Linked DNA regions of Homo sapiens. The protein of the gene in region 2 interacts with the protein of the main gene of each other region in a pairwise test. Each region holds a gene or a part of one and is shown on either strand. Other genes may lie near its edges.

Region 1 (7,030 bases), on a different chromosome or scaffold from region 2:
TCCCAAGTAGCTGGGAATACAGGCGTGCGCCACCAAGCCTGGCTAATTTTGCATTTTTAGTAAAGATGGGGTTTCTCCATGTTGGTTAGGCTGGTCTCGAACTCCCGACCTCAGGTGAGCCACCATGCCTGGCCTCAGATAGATAACTTTCTAAGAATTAAATGTCTTCCCATTTGCACAGGATTTCATACTTTTCAACTCTTTCCTGTTCTGCAAGGTAGACAGGAAGGAGTCTCCATGTGACAGATGAGGAACAGGAGGCCCTGAAGCAATGGGGGAGCGGTAAGGATGACATCCTGCCCTGCCCTGCCTCCCCCACCTCCCCTGTCCGCTCCCCACCACCATAAGGCAAAAGACACTGACAGTCATAGCTGCTCTCGCAGCTCTGGAGGCTGCACTGACACAACAAGAGTCCTCAGAACATCTTCCACCTCTGCTTTCCCCTTCAATTCACACTATAGTTGGTATGATTCTCAACAACTGTCAGAGGGTTAGTTTTATTACTCCCCAGACCCAAGCAGGCCCTGAAGCGGGGCTTGGAGGGTTCCCTGCTTGTTTATTATTTTTTAAAAAGAACAGAGATACGGTTTTGCTATGTTTCCCAGGCTGGTCTCAAACTCCTGAGCTCAAGAAATCCTCCCACCTTGGCCTCCCAAAGTGCTGGGATACAGGTGTGAGCCACCGCAGCCAGCCAGTCCTGCCTAATTTTTGAACAACCAAAAAGCTTTCAAATGCCATTATCAATGCTCCCCAATCTTGCCTCCTTCACTCCCTTAACCCCTGTCATTATTAAAGCTGCCTCCCCTGGCCCCACAAGCCCATCTCCTCACCCCTCTCCTCCCTACCCTTCAACACCATCCCCAGCAACACCAGCTCTACCAGCACCAGTGAATAAGAATCACAACCTGGATGGGCTCCAAGTCCAACTTCACCACATTCAGATATGGGATTCAGAAAAGTTTCACCGGAGCCCGACTCACATTCTATCATGTGGAAAGCGCTCTGCTGAGGAGCCCTGTTCCTCTAAGATACGCATGTGACAGGGTCTAGTCAGCATCCCACCTGTCCAAATAAGACTTTAAATGAGAGCACCATGGGCCTCTCTGTGTCCCCCTGAGCTTGCAGTCCATCCCCTTTACTCACCGAAGCCTCCGGGGTTTGATCGTGGAGTATAGAAGCTCTGAACGCCACATCTCTTACAGAAGGTATGCTGGGCTTTGTGAGTATTGAACGTGTAAGTCGTTATGTGCTCAGCTCCCTAGGTGAAAACAGACAAACGGTATTCTTTTTTACAAAGAGATTTATTTATTTAATTTATTTATTTATTTATTTATTGAGACAGAGTCTCCCACTGTCTCTCAGGCTGGAGTGCAGTGGCGCAATCTTGGCTCACTGCAACCTCCACCTGCATGGGTTCAAGAGATTTTCCTGCCTCAGCCTCCCAAGTAGCTGGGATTATAGGCGCGTGCCCCCATGCCCAGCTAATTTTTTGTATTTTTAGTACAGACAGGGTTTCACCATGTTGGCCAGGTTGGTCTCGAACTCCTGACCTCATGATTCACCCACCTTGGCCTCCCAAAGTGCTGGGATTACAGGTGTGAGCCACTGCGCCTGGCCCCAAAGACATTTATTTTTATGTCACTTAAAAAATACACCTTTGTAGCCGGGTGTGGTGGCAGGCGCCTGTAGTCCCAGCTACTCGGGAGGCTGAGGCAGGAGAATGGCATGAACCTGGAAGGCCGAGCTTGCAGTGAGCCGAGATCATGCCACGGCACTCCAGCCTGGGCAACAGAGCGAGACTCCGTCTCAAAAAAAAAAAAAAAAAAAACACCTTTGGCCAGGCATGGTGGCTCATGCCTGTAATCCCAACACTTTGAGGCCGAGGCAGGCGGATTGCTTGAGCCCAGGAGTTCAAGACCAACCTGGGCAACATGGCAAAACCCTGTTTCTACAAAAAAATATAAAAATTAGCCAGGTGCAGTGGCACACATCTGTAGTCCCAGCTACCTGGGAGGCTGAGGTAGGAGCATCAGTTGAGCCTGGGGAAGTAGAGGCTGCAGTGGGCTGAGATCGCACCATTAAAAAAAAAAATCTTGAAATAACTTAATGGCAGGAGCTCTTCTGTAGGGCTCTTTGTACTAAGAGGCCATTTCCTATCTCCAGAAGAGACTGGGACCTTCTTGAGGACAGAGACCCATCTACACTATCCAGAGACATGTCAGTCTGGAGCGTGACAGCTCACAGCTTCCCTTAGGTCAACGGCATACAGAATTCAGCCTTGAGCCTTCCCTGATACATCACATCAGGGAGGGAAAGTGCTTGCTTCCCAGGGCCTATGTGGAGAGACAGTTCACCCAAGGGACTGGCTCTCCATGTCCCCAAACAGAACGGCTCAAGGTCTTAAGAAAACTGATGGCTGTGCTTAATTTATCCACAAAGGACAAACCAGGAAAAAAATATTTGCCAGACGTCATAGACAGGCTAATTTCCTTAATGGATAATACAAACGGGAGACTGGACAAAGGACATGAACGGACAGTTCAGATAGAAAGAAAAATAAATCACTCTTTAGCCTATGAAATGCTCACCAAAGGAACTTCAATGAGATGTATTTCACTGTCAGGTGGGCAAAATCAAAGCCGTTAACATGGTATTGACAAGTATGTAGAGAAATATGTGCTCACATATATCAGTCACAGGAACAGGAATTGGTACAATTTAGCAACATCTACCAAAATTTTAAAGTGTACATATGCTTTAGCACACAATTCCATTTCTTGAAATTTATTATACAGATATATTCCAAATGTCTCAATGACATAGGTATATAGATACTATAGCACTGTTTATGAAGGCTAAAGATTGGAAAAATTGAAAATGTCCCTCAATAGAGGACCGGTTAGGCATTATGGACACTCATAAAATGAAATATTCTCCAACTTTTGAGAAGAATGAGACAGCTCTACAAAACTAACATGGAACAATTGCCAAAGTTACAAAGTAAAGCAAGGTATAGGCCAGGCGCAGTGGCTCACGCCTGTAATCCCAGCACTTTGGGAGGCCAAGGTGGGCAGATCACTTGAGGTCAGGAGTTCAAGACCAGCCTGGCCAACATGGTGAAACCCTGTCTGTACTAAAAATGTAAAAATTAGCCAGATGTGGTGGCGGGCACCTGTAGTCCCAGCTACTCAGGAGGCTGAAGCAGGAGAATCACTTGAGCCTGGGAGGCGGAGGTTACAGTGAGCCGAGATCACACCACTGCACTCCAGCCTGGGCAACAGAGTGAGACTGTCTCAAAAAAAAAGTTAAGCAAGGTATAAAACAACGTACGTGGTATGCTACCATTTCTTTTTTTTTTTTTAAGGCTATATACTGGTATGTGTGGTGTTTTTGTTTTGTTTTGTTTTGTTTTTTTGAGACAAGATCTCACTCTGTTATCCAGGCTGGAGTGCAGTGGTATGACGACAGCTTACTGCAGCCTTGACCTCCCAGGATCAAGTGATTCTCCCACCTCAGCCTCCCGAGTACCTGGGACTATAGGCATGCAACACCACACCTAGCCGATTTTTTATTTTTTGTAGACATGGGGGTCTCGCTATGTTGTCCAGGCTGGTGTTGAACTCCTGGGCTCAAGTGATCTGCCTGCCTTGGCCTTCCAAAGTGCTGGGACTACAGGCATGAGCTACTGTGCCTGGCCTGTATGTGCTTTTATATGCATATGTATCTTTGAAGAGGGATCCAAGAAACAGTGGCTTACCTTTAGGGAGAGAAATCAGACAGCTGAAGGGGAAGGGGTGGAGGTTTCTTATCCTTGTTAACCCTCTTTACGCTTCCCCAGCCATACCGTCCAGAATTGTGCTTCCTATAGAAATAGCTCCCTGAGGAGCCTTGCTCACTCCATAGCCACTGCAGCACAGAAAAGCAGCGAAGGACTGCCAAGTGGTCCCAAGCCATCCAGCATTATCTGGATGGAATTAAAGCCCCGCCCAACCCCACATTACCCATAATGTGCTAAAAGTCTTTTTTAAAAAATCTGTATTCTTTAACCTGGAGATTTTCTTTCTCTCTTTTTTTTTAACTGCTCCTTGTAGAGCAGGGTGTAGGAAGTGTGCCCAGAATAGCCAGAGAACTTATTTCTAAGAGAATTGATCCTAAAGAAGAAATTTCTAAATTGTCAAAAATGTATACCAAGGAGGTTCACCAGTGTTGTTGATAATCAGAAAAAAACGGGACTCAACTGCAATGATGCAGAGACAGTGATGGGGTAAGTAGACCAGGAAATCGGCTGTGGGGAAGAGGGAGACTGGGGCATGGGGACAGTAGGGAAAGATTTTTCACTGTGTATATACACATTTTCTTCTACCTTTCAAATTTTGTACCAAGTACAAAAAATTCCCCAAAATAATAAAATTAAAGTTACAAATAAGTATATAAGCTTTTCATTGGGAAATGAGATAAGCAGTTTATCAACAAAAAGAATGGTAAAATTCTACTTAATAAACATAAGACAATAGGTTTAGATGTATTTCTCAGAGTAGAAAATAATACACAAAGACAGACACCAAAATATTAACAGTGGTTACCTTTAGTTGACAGGATTTGGGTGATTTTATTGTTTTTTGATTCTCTGAATTTGAAAATGTTTCCACAATACCAAATAGGCCTCCAAAAAATAAAGGTAAAAAATAACACAACCTTTTATTTTTTATTTTCATTTTTTTTGAGATGGAGTTTCACTCGTCACCCAGGCTGGAGTGCAATGGTGTGATCTCGGCTCACTGCAACCTCCACCTCCCAGGTTCAAGTGATTCTCCTGCCTTGGCCTCCCAAGTAGCTGGGATTACAGGCATGCACTACAACGCCCAGCTAATTTTTGTATTTTTAGTAGAGATAGGGTTTCACCATGTTGGCCAGGCTGGTCCTCAACTCCTGACTTCAGGTGATCCATCCATCTTGGCCTCCCAAAGTGCTGGGATTACAGGCGTGAGCCACTGTGCCGGGCCCACCTTTTAAATGTCAACCTGAAACCAAAGCCCGTGAGAGGCCCTGCTATGCTCCAGGCCCCTCCCATGCTACAGACGGCATGCTAACAGTTGGGTGGGGGGTCCTGTAAATCTCACCAATGGGTTCTGCACTCCTTGACCCTGCTCTTAAGCACTGACCTTCAGGAGCTTGAAGCGAGAAGCTGGAACAATGAAGTGTCTATTCTGCTTCTTCTTGCAAATGCTGCAACTACAGAAAGACAGAGCAAATTCCAGATTGTGAGCAGCCACCTGCATCCTCTATGCCTGAGCGGCCCAGCCATGAGAGCCAGCCGACCCCACAGATGATGCCCCTTTCAGCACCATCCAGGGCCGAGGAGCTGGGGCAAAGGCCTGGATAGCAGTGCCTCTGGTTTGCAGGTACAGCAGAGCCCAGGGGGGTCCCAAGTCAGCAGTCGAGGTTCTGCAATGCTCAGAACACAGGACCAACAGACAGGTCTGTACTGCCCACCCCTCAGTTCTTTACAGTGAAGAGAAGCGCTGGACTTCAGAGACACTTAGGAAACAAATTTCAGACACTGCTACAACCTGATGTCTCTGAGACATCCACACCAAAAATGGACAAGGAAGTTTAGGTTTCCCTCTTTCTTCATCACCACGTCACAAGAAGTCCAGCTCCAAGTAAAACACGTCCCCAGAATTACCATCTCTGGAATTAAACTGAAGTCCCCTCTTTTCAGGCCACCTTTGAAAAAGTTCTAATTTAGCACAGAATCCTCTCACAAGTTATTCCACAGTGCTTCTTTTCCAATCTGGACTCTATTGTTAGTAGCCTGGTCAGTTCTCCATTTGAGTAATTCCATCGTATGTGCTTATTATTCATATATAATTCCGGTACCTAGGGGCAAAAAGGACTGGATGCTGTTAAATAATTAGCTGCATGCCAACTTTGGGTCCCAAAGCCAGAGCCTGTCGTCCCTGCTCCATCATAACGCCGGGGAAGGTGGTACAAATCAGGCCCTCCACAGCCAGCAGTGCCATCTGCCTCAACCGAAGAGCAGAGCGAGAGTGGAGGGCCTGGGGAGCCTCCAGGTGTATACACCCTTTACTAACATACCCTCCAACTCTCCCCAACTCTAGACTTCTATGAAGATTCTGCCCAAGGCTTTCCACTCAGTACCCAGCCAGGCACACCTGCAGCTAACCGCCCCCGGCTCCTCAGCAGTGTCAGTCTGAGGGTGATGCTGCCACAAGCCACAAGCCCTGAGGACCCTGCTCTGTGTCACCTGGGCCATGCTGTTGAAGCTCTGTGATGAGCCATATAAAAGGAACAAAAATAGAACAATGAACCTTTCTGTCCCCATCACCTGACTTCAACAGTTACCAGCCCAAGGCCAATGTTTCCTCTGTACCCCAACTCCCCAGATTATTTTGAAATATTGCATTTTAACTCTGAAATTCTTTTAAGCCAATTTAGGGAAAAAAAAATACTCACTTGCAGTCAAATATATGCAAGTCTGCTGAGGCCCAAACTTCAAAACGAACTGCTCCACAGTGGCAGCCTCCTGTGTGCTTCACCAGGCCCTGGTATTCACTAAATGAAACAAAAATCAGAAAGATAATAATTTCTGAATAGCTGCCTCCTGCTCTCTTTTTGTTGCTGAAAGAAAGACAGAAGATTAGACAAAAGTCTTTTCTACATGACAACCAGATGCATTTCTGCTTTTAAGGAGGCACTGTCAATTTCCTAAGTGAAGAATGGTTTCAGCACCTTCTTTGTCCATGAGCTCTCTTTTCACCAATTTCTTAAATTATATTAAGTTGCAAAATAAAACATTCCAAACATTTCGAAAATGTGAGGGATCCTAACCCACCACCAGACATTTTTATTTATATGTCAAATACTAAATTTTTTTTTTTTTTTTTGAGATGGAGTCTCAGTCTATTGCCCAGGCTGGAGTACGGTGGCACGATCTTGGCTCACTGCAACCTCTGCCACCTGGGTTGAAGCAATTCTCCAGCCTTAGCCTCCCAAGTAGCTGGGATTA
Region 2 (7,030 bases):
TTCTTGTCTATCTACCAAGAGAAGCACACATATTAACATCAATAGAAATATGCCTCACGTGGCCAGGTGCGGTGGTTCATGCCTGTAATCCCAGCACTTTGAGAGGCCGAGGTGGGTAGATTATGAGGTCAGGAGTTCAAGACCTGCCTGGCCAAGGTGAAACCCCATCTCTAATAAAAAAATACAAAAAATCAGCCGAGTGCGGCGGCAGGCGCCTGTAATCCCAGCTACTCGGGAGGCTGAGGCAGGAGAATCGCTTGAACCCGGCGGGAAGGCGGTGGTTGCAGCGAGCCAATATCGCACCACTGCACTCCAGCCTGGGCGACAGAGTAAGACTCCATCTCAAAAAAAAAAAAAGAAATATGCCTCATGTTATATGCAAAGTACAGGCATTAAAACTGTATATAAAACAATTTGTAAGTCAAATAATATTTTAAATGCAACTGGAGACTTCTCATTTAAAGGTTATATTCATTGAATTATAAGGTAAAGACGTTATTACAATGACAATTTTTTTTTTTTTTTTTGAGGTGGAGTCTCGCTCTGTCGCCCAGGCTGGAGTTCAGTGGCGGCAATCTCGGCTCACTGCAAGCTCTGCCTCCTGGGTGCATGCCATTCTCCTGCCTCAGCCTCCCCAGTAGCTGGGACTACAGGTGCCCACCACCATGCCCGGCTAATTTTTTGTATTTTTACTAGAGACGGGGTTTCACCGTGTTAGCCAGGTAGATCTCCTGACCTCGTGATCCGCCCACTTCAGCCTCCCAAAGTGCTGGGATTACAGGCGTGAGCCACTGCGCCCAGCCAACAACAACAAAATTTAACCTATAATTTAGTACATCTAACTTATCCACCTGGAAATTTACATTAAAATTTTCTGGGGTTTTGTTTTTTTTTTTTTTTTTTTTTTTTTTGAGACAGAGTCTTGCTCTGTCACCCAGGCTGGAGTGCAGCGGCGTGATCTCAGCTCACTGCAACTTCCACCTCCCAGGCTCAAGCAATCTTCCTACCTCAGCCTCCAAGTAGCTGCGACTACAGGCGTGTGCCACCATGCCCGGTTCTTTTTTTTTTCGAGACAGAATTTCACTCTTGTCACCCAGGCTGGAGTGCAATGGCACGATCTCGGCTCACTACAACCTCCATCTCCTAGGTTCAATCAACTCTCCTGCCTCAGCCTCCTGAGTAGCTGGGATCACAAGCATGCGCCATCACACCCAGCTAATTTTTGTATTTTTAGTAGAGAGGGGGTTTCACCATGTTGGCCAGGCTGGTCTTGAACTCCTGACCTCAAATGATCCGCCCGCCTCAGCCTCCCAAAGTGCTGGGATTACAGGCTTGAGCCACTGCACCCAGCCTTTGTATTTTTTTGGAAACGGGGTTTCACCATGTTACCCAGGCTGGTCTCAAACACCTGAGCTCAAGCAATCTGTCCACCTTGGCCTCTCCAAGTGCTAGAATTACAGGCATGAGCCACGGCACCCAGCCTACATTAAGATTTTTTTATCAAATAATTTAGGTTTACCCATAAAGTATTTCAATTCCTGGCACAAAGAGATCATAAATTAAAAATCTACGTTTTTTTTTTAAACATTATGTTAAGATAATAACCACTGTCCAAAGGAAAGATGTTGATGCTAGAAGAACAAAGACCAAAACCATTCTACTAATGAGTCTAAAGAAGTGTGGTGTTTCTCTTAATCCCAAGTCAACAACCGTTAACAATCAGAGCTAAGTTCCATTTTCATCACACTAGATACTTGACTTAGACACTTAACATGTGGTTCCCCTCAACGGAATGTGAGTTCTCTAAGGACAGACACTTTTTGTCTGTTTTGGTCACTGTTTGAATCACACCCAAAACCTGGACCAGGGCCTGTCACATTCATAAATATTAAAAGTCTTACCACAGACTGAATGGCTTAAACAACAGACATTTATTTTTACACAGTTCTGGTGGCTGGAGGTCCAAGATCAAGGTGTCGAGAGGGCTGATTTCTTCTGAGGTCTCGCTCCTTGGCCTGTAGATGGTCATCTTCTCCCTGTGTCTTCACATGGTCTCTACTCTGAGCATGGCCATGTCCTAATTTCCTCTTCCTATAAGGATACCAGTCATATACCCTCATTTTACCTTAATTACCTCTTTAAAGATCCTATCTCCAAATTCAGTCACATTCTGGGTATTGGGGGTTAGGACCATGCTATGATCTGAATATCTGTGCCCCTCCGAAATTCCTATGCTGAAATCTAATCCCCAACTTGCTAGTATAAGATGGGGCCTTTGGGAAGTGACTAGGTCATGATGGTGCAGCCCTCGTGAATGGGATTAGTGCCCTTATAAAAGGGGCCCAGAGAGCTTGTTTATGCCTTCTGCCTTCCACCTTCCACCACAGGAGAACAAAGCAAGAGGCACCATCTATGAAGACGAGAGCAGCCCCCGCAAAACACCCAATCTGCTGGTACCTTAATCTTGGACTTTCCAGCCTCCAGAACTGTAAGCAATACATTTCTGTTGTTTATAAACTACCCAGCCTAAGGCATTTTGTTATAGCAACTGGAACAGACAGACTTCAACATACAAATGTGAAAGGAACAAAATTCAGCCATTCAGGAAGGGAAGTTGATACAACTTTATAATTCTTTAATAATTCACTATTAAAGTTTCCCTATCTCATGAAATACAGAACATGTGTTTCAATGAATGATGTTAATACTCAAAGTACTGGTTTTGAACCCTTTATAAAGATATAAATAATCCATGAATTATATTGCATGCTACCTGTCAACAGAGATTCCTGTTCCACTCGCAGTTCACGAAACAGAAGAATCAAATCAACAGCAACACCAATCGTATCCAAGTTCCTGGGTTTTTTAAAAAAGACAAAATTAGACATGTTCATTCATTCATATATTGTCTATGGCTGTTTTTGCACTACAATGGGAGAGCTGAGAAATCTGACAGAGATTACAAAGCCTAAATTATTTATTATCTGGCTCTTTACAGGAAAAATATAGCAACCCTAGCAGTAGAGGTTATATTTACATGCAGAGCTAACTGCTTCCAACAGCTTTCTTTGAGTACTTCCTGAAGTTTCCCATGACTCAGATTCTTTGCTTTATTGTATTTTACCCCATTCCATGCATTCTTGGCAAAAACAGTCCCAGTCCACACAAAGTGCAAAAGATGTAAAAAGATCTAGGCTTTAATAGCATCACACCTTTTGATGAACTCTTTAACGACTTAAAGTAAAACATCAGAAAAATATGTACTAGTTGCAATCTGAATCTTGACTGGCTCAGAAATACTGGCCTTAGTTAAGCTTGGCCACAAAGTCTTTACTAGAATCTTTGTAGTATTTCTAACTAGAAAATTCTTTTCTGAAAATTGCTGCCCTAAATGGTTGAAATTTTCCTTTAAAAATCAACAGTGAATAATAATACAATCCTAGAAGGGAAGAGGCAGAAAAATTAACACCCTTAAATGTTCATTTTCATTTCCGCCCAACCATAAGTTGCATGCAATAAAAAGATATCACAAACAGCACAGCCCTTGCTTTGCTGGCCCTACCAAAAGACCACCGATAACTTACTTGTCATAGTATTTATTTTTGTAATGTTAGAATTTTTATAGTTTGCATATATTACTCAAAAAAGAAAATAAAAATTGACTGCTTTGAAAGAAAGTATTAACATAAACTTGTGTTGTACATTCATTCCTGAGGCAGAGGCAGAAACATTTAATGTTTACTGAGCACACAATGTGCATTAGGCATTTACATAAGTAATCTCATTTACACCCCATAACCAGCCTGTTTGGAAGACATTGCTTACCTAGTTTTACAGAGGACAAAACTGATACTCAGGAAGACCAAGTCACCTGTCCAGGGTCAAGATGGAGCAGTCATCCACAACAAGACCAGTGTGTAAGGCTCAGGACAGCAAGGGTAGACTGCATTTTTTTTTTTGAGACGGAGTCTCACTCTGTTGCCCAGGCTGAAGTGCAGTAGCCCAATCTTGGCTCACTGCAACCTCCGCTTTCCCCGTTCAAGTGATTCTCCTGCCTCAGCCTCCAGAGTAGCTGGGACTACAGGTGTGTGCCACCACACCCAGCTAATTTTTTATTTTTAGTAGAGACAGGGTTTCACCATGCTGGCCAGGCTGGTCTCGAACTCCTGACCTCATGATTCACCCGCCTCGGCCTCCCAAAGTGTTGGGATTACAGGCGTGAGCCACCGCGCCTGGCCCAGACTGCTTTTGAGCTTAAGCTCAGAACAGTAAGGGCAGACTGCTTGTTAAGCTTAAGCTTTAGAGTCAGATGTCTGGATATGGAGAGAATGTTCCCAGCCTCTCTCACTTAACAAGTGACTCTCAGACAAGTTATTTAACCTCTCCAAGTTACAGTTTCATCTTTTGTAAAAATGAAAAAATTTCTTGAGTTTGTTCTAAGAATTAAAGAAGATACTACAAGCAAAACCCTTGGGACAAAGCCCAATGCCGAAGGCAGGCTCAACGAATGCTCACTCCCTTCCCCACCAAGATTAGCCAAGCACAAAGGTGTATCTGCCAGCCACAGTCAAAAGTTAGTTCTACGGCTCTCCTTTCCTTCCCCATCACACTAGAGCACCTTGTGACTGGAAAAGGACAAAAGAAACTAGCCTTCTGGCCAGATGCTTCTAGCATATAACTAGTTATGTTTTAGAATGTAGACTATTATTATCAAGATTATTGTTGTTTCTATCCATTTATCCTCAAATGGATGGCAGGTTTGGTTTAGTATTGAAGTTACACGACTCACTTTTTACCCTCTCTCCTTTGATCTTAAAAATCTCATTAATCATATCAAAGCCTCGGGTATATGTGTCTAACCGAAGGGAGTCCCTCAAGTGGCTTCTGGACCAGCCCAAGCTTACCCGTCACAGTGGTGACAGGGAAGCCTGGAGGCTCTGTCTACATCCAAGTCCAGGAAGGAAAGTGAGCATCCTGTTTGTGGCTTCTGACTTCAAGTAAAAATTTTTAATAAAAAGCAGGTTCCACAAAATCAAAGAAGAAAGATGCTGTGTTCTGGGAGGAGACGGTAACACGTAAAAGCAAAGAAGAGCACTGGACAGCTCGCCTGCTCATGTTTTAACTACTTTTAAAAATGTGCGCATCATAAAATAGGTGGAAGCAGAGCTTGGAACTTTACATGATCTTTAGGAAAGACAGGTCATCTTGTAAATTTACAAAATATGCTTCTTGTCCAAACACAAGAGTAACAAATTAAAACATTAAAAGTAATTAAAACATTTACAACCTGAGGTCAAGAACTGCATATAAACTTAGGCAGGTAAAATCTAGGAACAAAGACTCAAAATCAGCTTCAAAACACTATGAAGAACCAAATACCTCAAAACATGTGATAAAAACAAACAAGAAATCTAACCCCTAATGTTAAACACACTCCATTATTTTATACACTAGTCAGAGAGACTCCAATGGCAAGGCCTGTAGAGGGCCTCTCCCAGCAGATGTAAAGGGCAATCCTGCAATAACAGTGGGTGATACTATCATGCCAGAACAACTTTTTTTTTTTTTTTTTCCCTGAGACAGGGTCTCACAATGTGGCCCAGCCTGCAGCAATGGCATCATCTCAGATTACTGCAACCTCTGCCTCTCCCTGGCCCAAGCAATCCTCCCACCTCAGTCTCCTGAGCAGTTGGGACTACAGGTGTGCGCCACCATGTCCAGCTAATTTTTTGTATTTTTTTTGTAGAGACAGGGTCTCACCATGTTGCCCAGGCCGGTCTTGAACTCCTGGACTCAAGCAATCCTCCTGCCTCAGCCTCCCAAAATGCTGGGATTACAGGCATGAGCCACCTTACCCAGCCCAAAACAACTTCTAACAGATAAACCAAATGACAGAACCAGCATGCACATATACAAAGAAACAGAATCCAAGGTACGTGTGTAACTACCTGATTGAATTCTGGTTCACAGAACACTCTATGCAAGCATTGCGAAGACACCTGAAGCATTCTGTTATTAACTGCAGACTGGAAGCCAGGTTTTCCACTTGGGATGGATCTCTGCAGGCAAGCTCAACAGCATGAGAAGATTTCTTTAGGATATCCAGAACTCTTTGGAAGATAGTCCTGGGTGCTGTTTCTCTGAAAAAGGATAAAATTATCACGAATCAGAAAAAAAAGATTATGATTTCCAAATGTCCTATTCAGAAAACTGCTTTTATCTACTATTGTGGGGAGGTACGCTACGTTTATCTGCTTTAGCTCCTTAATTTACAACACCAAATAAAAGATCTACACATATTGAGCACTTACTATGCACCAGACACTGTTCTTGTCACTTCTCATGTATTATCTCAGTCTCTGCAACAGCCTTATGAGGCCAACACTGTCCTCTCCATTTACAGATAAGGTAAGTGAAGTAGAGATGGTAAGTAACTTGCACAAATCACTCAGCCAGTAACTGGCAGAGACACAAGGCCAAGTGAAGCACTCTGGCCTGAGCACTTCCACTACCCATGACAACCCAAATCCCAGTTCCAGTGACTGCTCATGCTTATGGATCTACCCTGAATCAGAACAGAGTATCTTTATTTAATGTTCTAGACAGAGAATATATTCTGGTCCTCTGTCACCCAATATGTAGCTAAGTTCAGTTATAAGAAACAATATTCCTGTAGGACAAGGATACTATCTACTCTGTAGACACAGTGAGGCTGACAACACACACACCAAACTTCTACAGTCAACTACATAGATGGGAGAGAAAGGAGAGGGGGAGAATGTAAAGTGTGCCTGTTCTTCCACCAAGAATGTATGCCCAGGGAGAAAGATGAACCTGTGGTTGTACCCTCTGGGCATCTCAGTCTCTGCGTGCCTCTCATGCCAGGAGTACTGCCTGCACTGGCTATCATTCCAGAGCTCTAAAGATAAGAATTTTTTGTGCAACATTGCACCTAAATGCAAGCCAACTTCCTCATTCCATAAATCCCCTAAAGAAACAGCAAATCTCTTTTAACGTTAGAAGGAAAGTT
Region 3 (7,030 bases), on a different chromosome or scaffold from region 2:
TAGGGAGACCCTGCCTCTTCCAAAAAAAAAAAAAAATTGGCTGGGCATGGTGGTGTGTGCCTGTAGTCCCAGCTACTTGAGGGGCCGAGGTGGGAGGATCACCTGACGAGGTTGTGAGCCTTTATAGTGTCACTGCATTCCAGCCTGGGAGACAGAGTGGGACCTTGTCTCAAAAAAAAGTGTTAAAGGGAAGACAGCAGAGAACAGAGTAGTAGAGTGGCAGCCAAGGAGGTGGAAGCTCTGGCTTCTTGGCTTCTTTCCCTGCTCCTAGACTGGCCTGACACTTTTCTTTTGGCCAAAATAGGTCAGTGATTACTTAGGCACAGTCACACGTGGACCTGCTTCCAGGGCGCTTCCACAGGTTAATGCTGGCTTATGTAGTTTATGTGGTGGTTGTTGTTGACGTGGGCTCTCCCTGTTGGATTTGGAGATGCTTACTGGTAAGGACTTTGTTTTAGGCAGATTTTTGGCTTCTTCACACAGTGGTGGGCATCTGGTAAAGTGTCTGTGAATCTCCTGTGGATTACAATGTCTCTAAACGTGGGTTTAGTTAGCTGTAAAAGGGGGTGAATACCAGCTTTATTGACATTCCAGGTTTATTGTCAAGATTCAGTCACATAGTGTGTGTGAAAATGCTTCGAAACTGGTAAGGTGTTTTATTTATATAATTAAAGGGAGATATTAGTAATGAGTTATAGTCCTAAAACAACCAACATTAGTGTTTCATTGTTATAATTTTTATATATTGTCAAAATAGTGTAACTTTTTTATAGCATTCACATTTATCTAAGTGAGAAATTGCCTAAAACTTAAGAGTTGTCACTGTGCTTGGTAGGTTGGAAGAAGAAGCTTAACAGTGACAAAGATGCTGTCTTCAACAGAAACTGGTAATGAGTGATACCTGAATAATCTAGAAAATCCTGCATGCCTTCCCCTCAGCCTGTTGAAAGTATCCTCTGCCTTTCTTCATACCTCACACCTGGCCTTATTCTCCAGCATCCTCACTGCATTCTCATCATCAACCATAGTGATTGGCGTTGGCCCTGAGGGAAGGTTCTGGTAGAATGCTATGATTTATTTCCATAGGGCAAGTTTGCTGAATTTCTGTTATAGATTCCCAAGAGGGAAATAAGGCATAGCTGTGTTCTTGCTCCTTAACTTTTCTGGCTGTTTTGCCCTCTTGACTTAGGAGTCTGCTTCAGATTAAGATGAAGATGAAGAGTAGAAGTACATGGAACCCCACTCTTCTTAGACCCCCTGCCCCCCAATCATGAACACATACAGAAGAATTCATATGTGTGGTTCCTGAAAACCTATCAGGATGTTCATTGATGGAAGTGAGATCATTAGAGGTATAACCTTGATATTTAAAAAAGAATTAATTCCCAAACCTTTGTGCTTTGCCTGTTGCTGTAACAAATTACCTTGGACACACCTCACAGCTGATTTTGGCACACCAGTGCTGTACGTGTCTTGGAGCTATTGCTGCTGAACTGCTTTAAAAACATGGACAGTGGTATTTTGTTCTTTGTTTTAATAGACTACAGTGGGTTAGAGAGGAAATTCCTACACAATAGGCTACCTTTATCCCATTCCAATTACTTTATTCTGGTTAATAGGTCTATTCCATAGCTTTAACTTTAGTCTTTTTCTTGATTTCTTATATTCTAACAATGCAGGACTTCTAGTCTAGATGGAATAAAATGAAAAGGGGGAAAAAACTCTGGGTATACAGGAAGAGACTTCTCTCACAAAGCTTTTTTCCTCTTTAACTGTCTTTAATTTCTAAAATCTGGGATATATTTGTGTGTGTGTGTGTGTGTGTGTGTGTGTGTGTGTGTGTATATTTTGAGACGGAGTCTCACTCTGTTGCCCAGTCTGGAGTTCAGTGGCGCGATCTCGGCTCACTGCAGCCTCCACCTCCCGGGTTCAAGCAATTGTCCTGTCTTAGCCTCCTGAGTAGCTGGGATTACAGGCACACGCCATCACGCCTGGCTAGTTTTTTGTATCTTTAGTAGAGACAGGATTTCACCATATTGGCCAGGCTGGTCTTGAACTCCTGACCTCGTGATCCACCTGCCTCGGCCTCCCAAAGTGCTGGGATTACAGGCATGAGCCATCGCGCCTGGCCCATAATTCTTAATTTTCAAAATGACAGCCTGTCATTGCCTTTGTGTTAATAAACATTTGTTGTGCTTCTTGAATATTTTGTGGTATATAAAAGTTCTCATGTTCAGCCAGGCGCAGTGGCTCACACCTGTAATCCCAGCACTTTGGGAGGCTGAGGCGGGTGGATCACCTGAGGTTAGGAGTTCCAGACCAGCCTGACCAACATGGTGAAACCCCATCTCTACTAAATACAAAAAATTAGCCGGGCGTGGTGGCGTATGCCTGTAATCCCAGCTACTTGGGAGGCTGAGGCAGGAGAACCACTTGAACCTGGGAGGCAGAGGTTGCAGTGAGCCGAGATTGCACCATTGCACTCCAGCCTGGGCAACAAGAGCGAAACTTCGTCTCAAAAAAAGAAAAACGTTCTCATGTTCAGATTCTACTCATCTGTCAAAGGCCACCCCAAATGCTCTCTATCTTAGTCTATTTTGTGTTGTGTTTGTGTTCTATAACAGAACACCACATATAGGTAATTTACAAAGAAAAATTTATTTCTCACAGTTCCAGAGGATGGAAGTCCAATATTAAGGTACTAGCATCTAGCAAGGACTTTCTTGGCCTGTCATCCCATGGTGGAAGGTGAGAAGGCAAGAGAATGTGTGGACGAGAGAGGAAGGGGGCCAAAATCATCCTTTTGTCTGGAACGCATTCCTGATAACTAACCTGTCCCTGCGATAACAGCATTAATCCACTGATCATCTCTTAAAGGTTCTGCCGCTCAACACTGCTGCATTGGGCACTGAGTTTCTTCCTTTTTCTTAATATTCATGTCTTTTTTTTTTTTTTTTTTTTTTTTTTTCAAGAAAACACACAACAAATGTCAGAATATGAGATAGGGAAGTTCTCCTGGAACAGCATGTAGATTATTTTCTAGAGCACTTTAGTTAAATGGTACTTAATGATGATAATTCTTCTGAACACAATTCAGAATTTGAACCAATATTTGTTGTTTCAGGAAAGCAGAATTTCCTTTGAATGATGGATAAGAATGGTGAGGATCTTTATAATATAGAATAAATTGCTGAAAAGAAACTTTGAGGGAATATTCAAAGCACCCTCTTATTTTGAACCTTCCTTGATCATCTCTAATGTGACTGCTTTCTCAGAACTTCCATATCATTTGTCCCCTCTTTTGGAGTTCTTGCTGCTTTTTGTTTTTGTATTTGTTTTCACTTATTCAGTAATTATTCAGTGTCCACTGCATCCTAGGTAATATTTCAGCTGTCAAAAGTCAGATTTTGGCTGGGCATGGTGGCTCACTCCTGTAATCCCAACACTTTGGGAGGCCGAGGTGGTTGGATCACCTGAGGTCTGGAGTTCGAGACCAGCCTGACCAACATGACAAAACCCCGTTGCTACTAAATATAACAAAAAAAAAATTAGCTGGTCATGGTGGCACGTGCCTGTAATCCCAGCTACGTGGGAGGCTGAGGCAGGAGAATCGCTCAAACCCAGGAGGCAGAGGGAGACTATTTTTATAATGATACTAAGATGCCATTTCTGTTTTCACTGTGTTGACACTTGTACTGATGGTCCAAAAGCAGTAATAGGGAAAACTGCTGGGCACTTTAACGTAAATTGAGGCAGGGACTCCAAGTGTCACTGATAGTCATTATATTATTCGCTACCTCTCCACTTGCAGTTTTAAAAAAACAAAAAGGGCTGCTTTCACTTAAACAGACCCTGATGAAGCAGTAAAAATTAAAAAAAAAAATTGGCCTTTTGTCTTTTCATGAGGAAATGGGAAGTACATGAATTGCTTTTGCTGCACAAAGAGGTACAGTGCCTGTTTTGAGAAACAGCAATTGTGTAGTTTGAGTTGCAAAGCGAACTAGCTGCTTTTATTGTGAAATGCCATTTTTGCTTGAAAAAGTGGGTAGCAGACAATCTGCAGTTATTGAGACTTGGGTATTTGGTGGACGTTTTCTGGAAAATAAATGAGAGGAAATAACTGACAATTTATGACCAATGATAATATTTGTGCTTTCAAGCAAAAATCAAAATTTTGAAAAAATTTATCTGCTACAGTGAGCTTGACAGTTTCTCAATAGTTAACGACTTCTTTGATGAGATTGGTGACAATATAATGAATGAGTATTTGATATTATATAATTAAATGTGTCAGCATTTGGAAGATCCACATAATTTTGTGAACTAATATTTTCCAGCTCACCATTGCACCACGTTACAAAGTCATAGTGCATGGGTAAAAGATTCATTCAAAAGATAGACCAATGGATTTTAATGTAGTGATATGAAAAGTTCACTGATAAGAGTTATAGATTCTACATTATAACTTTTTTTTTTTTTTTTTTTTTTTTGAGATGGAGTCTTGCTCTGTCTCCCAGGCTGGAGTGCAGTGGCGCGATCTCAGCTCACTGCAACCTCTGCCTCCCAGGTTGAAGTGATTCTCCTACCTCAGCCTCCTGAGTAGCTGGGATTACAGGTGCCTGCCACCATGCCTGGCTAATTTTTGTATTTTTAGTAGAGATTGGGTTTCACGTGTTGGTCAGGCTGGTCTCGAACTCCTGACCTCGTGATCCGCCCGCATTGATCTCCTAAAGTGCTGGGATTACAGGCCTGAGCCACCACTCCCGGCCACAACTTTTTTTTTTTAAGAGACTCCCCCTTGCCTGGTTTTGGTGTTGTATCAAGGAAGAATGTCCACAGTGATCTGAAAAGGCTGCTGAGACACCCCACCTTTTTCCAACTGCATGTCTCTCTGAAAAAGGATTTGATTCATAGACTTCAACCAAAAAAACCACACAGTACAACAGATTGGATACAGGAGCAGGTATGAGAATCCATATTGTCTTCTCTGAAGCCAGAGTTAAAGCAACTTGCAAAAATGTAAAAGAATACCTCTTCTTACTAAATGTTTTTGTTTTCAGAAATCTTTTATTTTTAGTAAAAAATATTATTTACCTTAATATCTAGTCAGTTTATTATTAAAAATTTTAAATGAGTTAGGCCGGGCGCGGTGGCTCACGCCTGTAATCCCAGCACTTTGGGAAGTCGAGGCGGGCGGATCACGAGGTCAGGAGGTCGAGACCATCCTGGCTAACACAGCGAAATCCTGTCTCTACTAAAAATACAAAAAATCAGCCGGGCGTGGTGGTGGGTGCCTGTAGTCCCAGCTGCTCGGGAGGCTGAGGCAGGAGAATGGCGTGAACCTGGGAGGCGGAGGTTGCAGTGAGCCGATATCGCACCGCTGCACTCCAGCCTGGGCTACAGAGCGAGACTCCGTCTCAAAAAAAAAAAAAAAAAAATTTAAATGAGTTAAATATTTAAAAAATTTCACAGTATTAGTTTTGTTTGTTTGTTTGTTTGTTTGTTTTTTAAGATAGTGTCTCGCTCTGTTGCCCAGTTGGGAGTGCAGTGGTGTGAGGATAGCTCACTGCTGCCTTTAACTCCTGGGTTCAAATGATCTTCTTGCCTCAGTCTCTTGAATAACTAGAACATAGTAGCTGAAAGACATGGATGTCATCATCTATTTCTTTATATTTTTTGTAACATTTTAAAGCTATTGCCTAGTTTAATAATTATTTCAGTTTGTGTATGTAAGGACAATCAGGCATTTAAATTTATAAAACATGTTTGAAAATCTTTAAAAGTTACACTTACTGACTAGTTGCTTGTCTGTTGCACTAACAAAATTTATTATTCATGTTTCGGGAATACCCTCTTTAGGTTTTGTTTGTTTTTTTTTTCATAGTAAATTATCCCAGTACAAGTGTCTTTGTACAAAATTTTGATTTCTAAGTTTCTTTAAAAATATCAATGCCAGCTGGGCCCAGTGGCTCACACCTATAATCCCAGCACTTTGGGAGGTCGAAGAGGATGGCTGAGGAGGTTGGATCGTTTGAACTCAGGAGTTTGGGATCAGCCTGAGTGACATGGTGAAACCCCATCTCTGCTAAAAAATATGAAAATTAGGGCTGGGTGCAGTGGCTCATGCCTGTAATCCCAGCAGTTTGGGAGGCCGAGGTAGACGGATCACTTGAGGCCAGGAGTTTGAGACCAGCCTGGGCAACATGGTGAAACTCCGCCTCTACTAAATAAAAAAAAAAATTAGCCTGGCATGGGGGCAAGTACCTATAATCCCAGCTACTCGGGAGACTGAGGCAGGAGAATCTCTTGAACCCAGGAGCCGGAGGCTGCAGTGAGCTGAGATTGTGCCACTGCACTCCAGCCTGGGTGACAGTGAGACTGTCTCAAAAAAAAAAAAAAAAAAAAGCTGGGTGTGGTGGTGCACGCCTATAATCCCAGCTACTCTGATGGCTGAGGCAGGGAGAACCGCTTGAACCTGGGAGGTGGAGGCTGCAGTGACCTGAAATTGCACCACTGCACTCCATGATACCCTGTCTAAAAAAAAAAAAAAAAGAGAGAAAATCGGCGCCAGAACAAATCCTACACAAGCCCACTTGTGTCAGAAATTTAAAATAGTCAGACTCATAGAAGCAGAGAGTAGAATGGTGGTTGCCAGAGACTGGGGTGGTGGGAGAATCTGGAAGGTGTTGATCAAAGGGTATATAGTTTCAGTTATACAGGATGAGTAACTGCTAGAGAGCTGCTGTACAGCATAGTGCATATAGTTAACAATACTGTATTGTATATTTAAAAATTTGTTAAGAGAGTAGAGCTCATGTTAAATGTTCTTATCACAAACAGGAAAGGAAGAAACTTTTAGAGATGATGTTTATGTTTATGTTTATGGTGATGGTTTCACAGGGATATACTTACCTTTAAATTCATCAAAATTTATATATTAAATATGCACGAGTTCTTATAGGTTAATCATGTCGATTTAAAAAAAGAAATATCAGTGATTTCAATTTTAATATCCTAAAACTTTAAACAT

Evidence for each region. Proteins that work in one complex are often made in the same cells at the same time.
Region 1: the proteins of ATXN10 (region 2) and CENPV interact in binary tests that used the Homo sapiens proteins (3 or more experiments, as listed by UniProt).
Region 3: the proteins of ATXN10 (region 2) and DIP2A interact in binary tests that used the Homo sapiens proteins (3 or more experiments, as listed by UniProt).

The regions. Positions count from the first base shown.
Region 1 is NC_000017.11:16,343,454-16,350,483, forward strand, and holds part of CENPV (centromere protein V), read right to left. Parts: intron 6,577-7,030; coding exon 6,478-6,576; intron 5,233-6,477; coding exon 5,163-5,232; intron 1,259-5,162; coding exon 1,144-1,258; intron 1-1,143. UniProt on the Homo sapiens protein: Required for distribution of pericentromeric heterochromatin in interphase nuclei and for centromere formation and organization, chromosome alignment and cytokinesis.
Region 2 is NC_000022.11:45,688,822-45,695,851, reverse strand, and holds part of ATXN10 (ataxin-10), read right to left. Parts: intron 6,141-7,030; coding exon 5,949-6,140; intron 2,857-5,948; coding exon 2,774-2,856; intron 1-2,773. UniProt on the Homo sapiens protein: May play a role in the regulation of cytokinesis. May play a role in signaling by stimulating protein glycosylation. Induces neuritogenesis by activating the Ras-MAP kinase pathway and is necessary for the survival of cerebellar neurons.
Region 3 is NC_000021.9:46,461,877-46,468,906, forward strand, and holds part of DIP2A (disco-interacting protein 2 homolog A), read left to right. Parts: intron 1-594; exon of another isoform or gene 595-646; intron 647-835; exon of another isoform or gene 836-887; intron 888-1,189; exon of another isoform or gene 1,190-1,352; intron 1,353-7,030. UniProt on the Homo sapiens protein: Catalyzes the de novo synthesis of acetyl-CoA in vitro. Promotes acetylation of CTTN, possibly by providing the acetyl donor, ensuring correct dendritic spine morphology and synaptic transmission.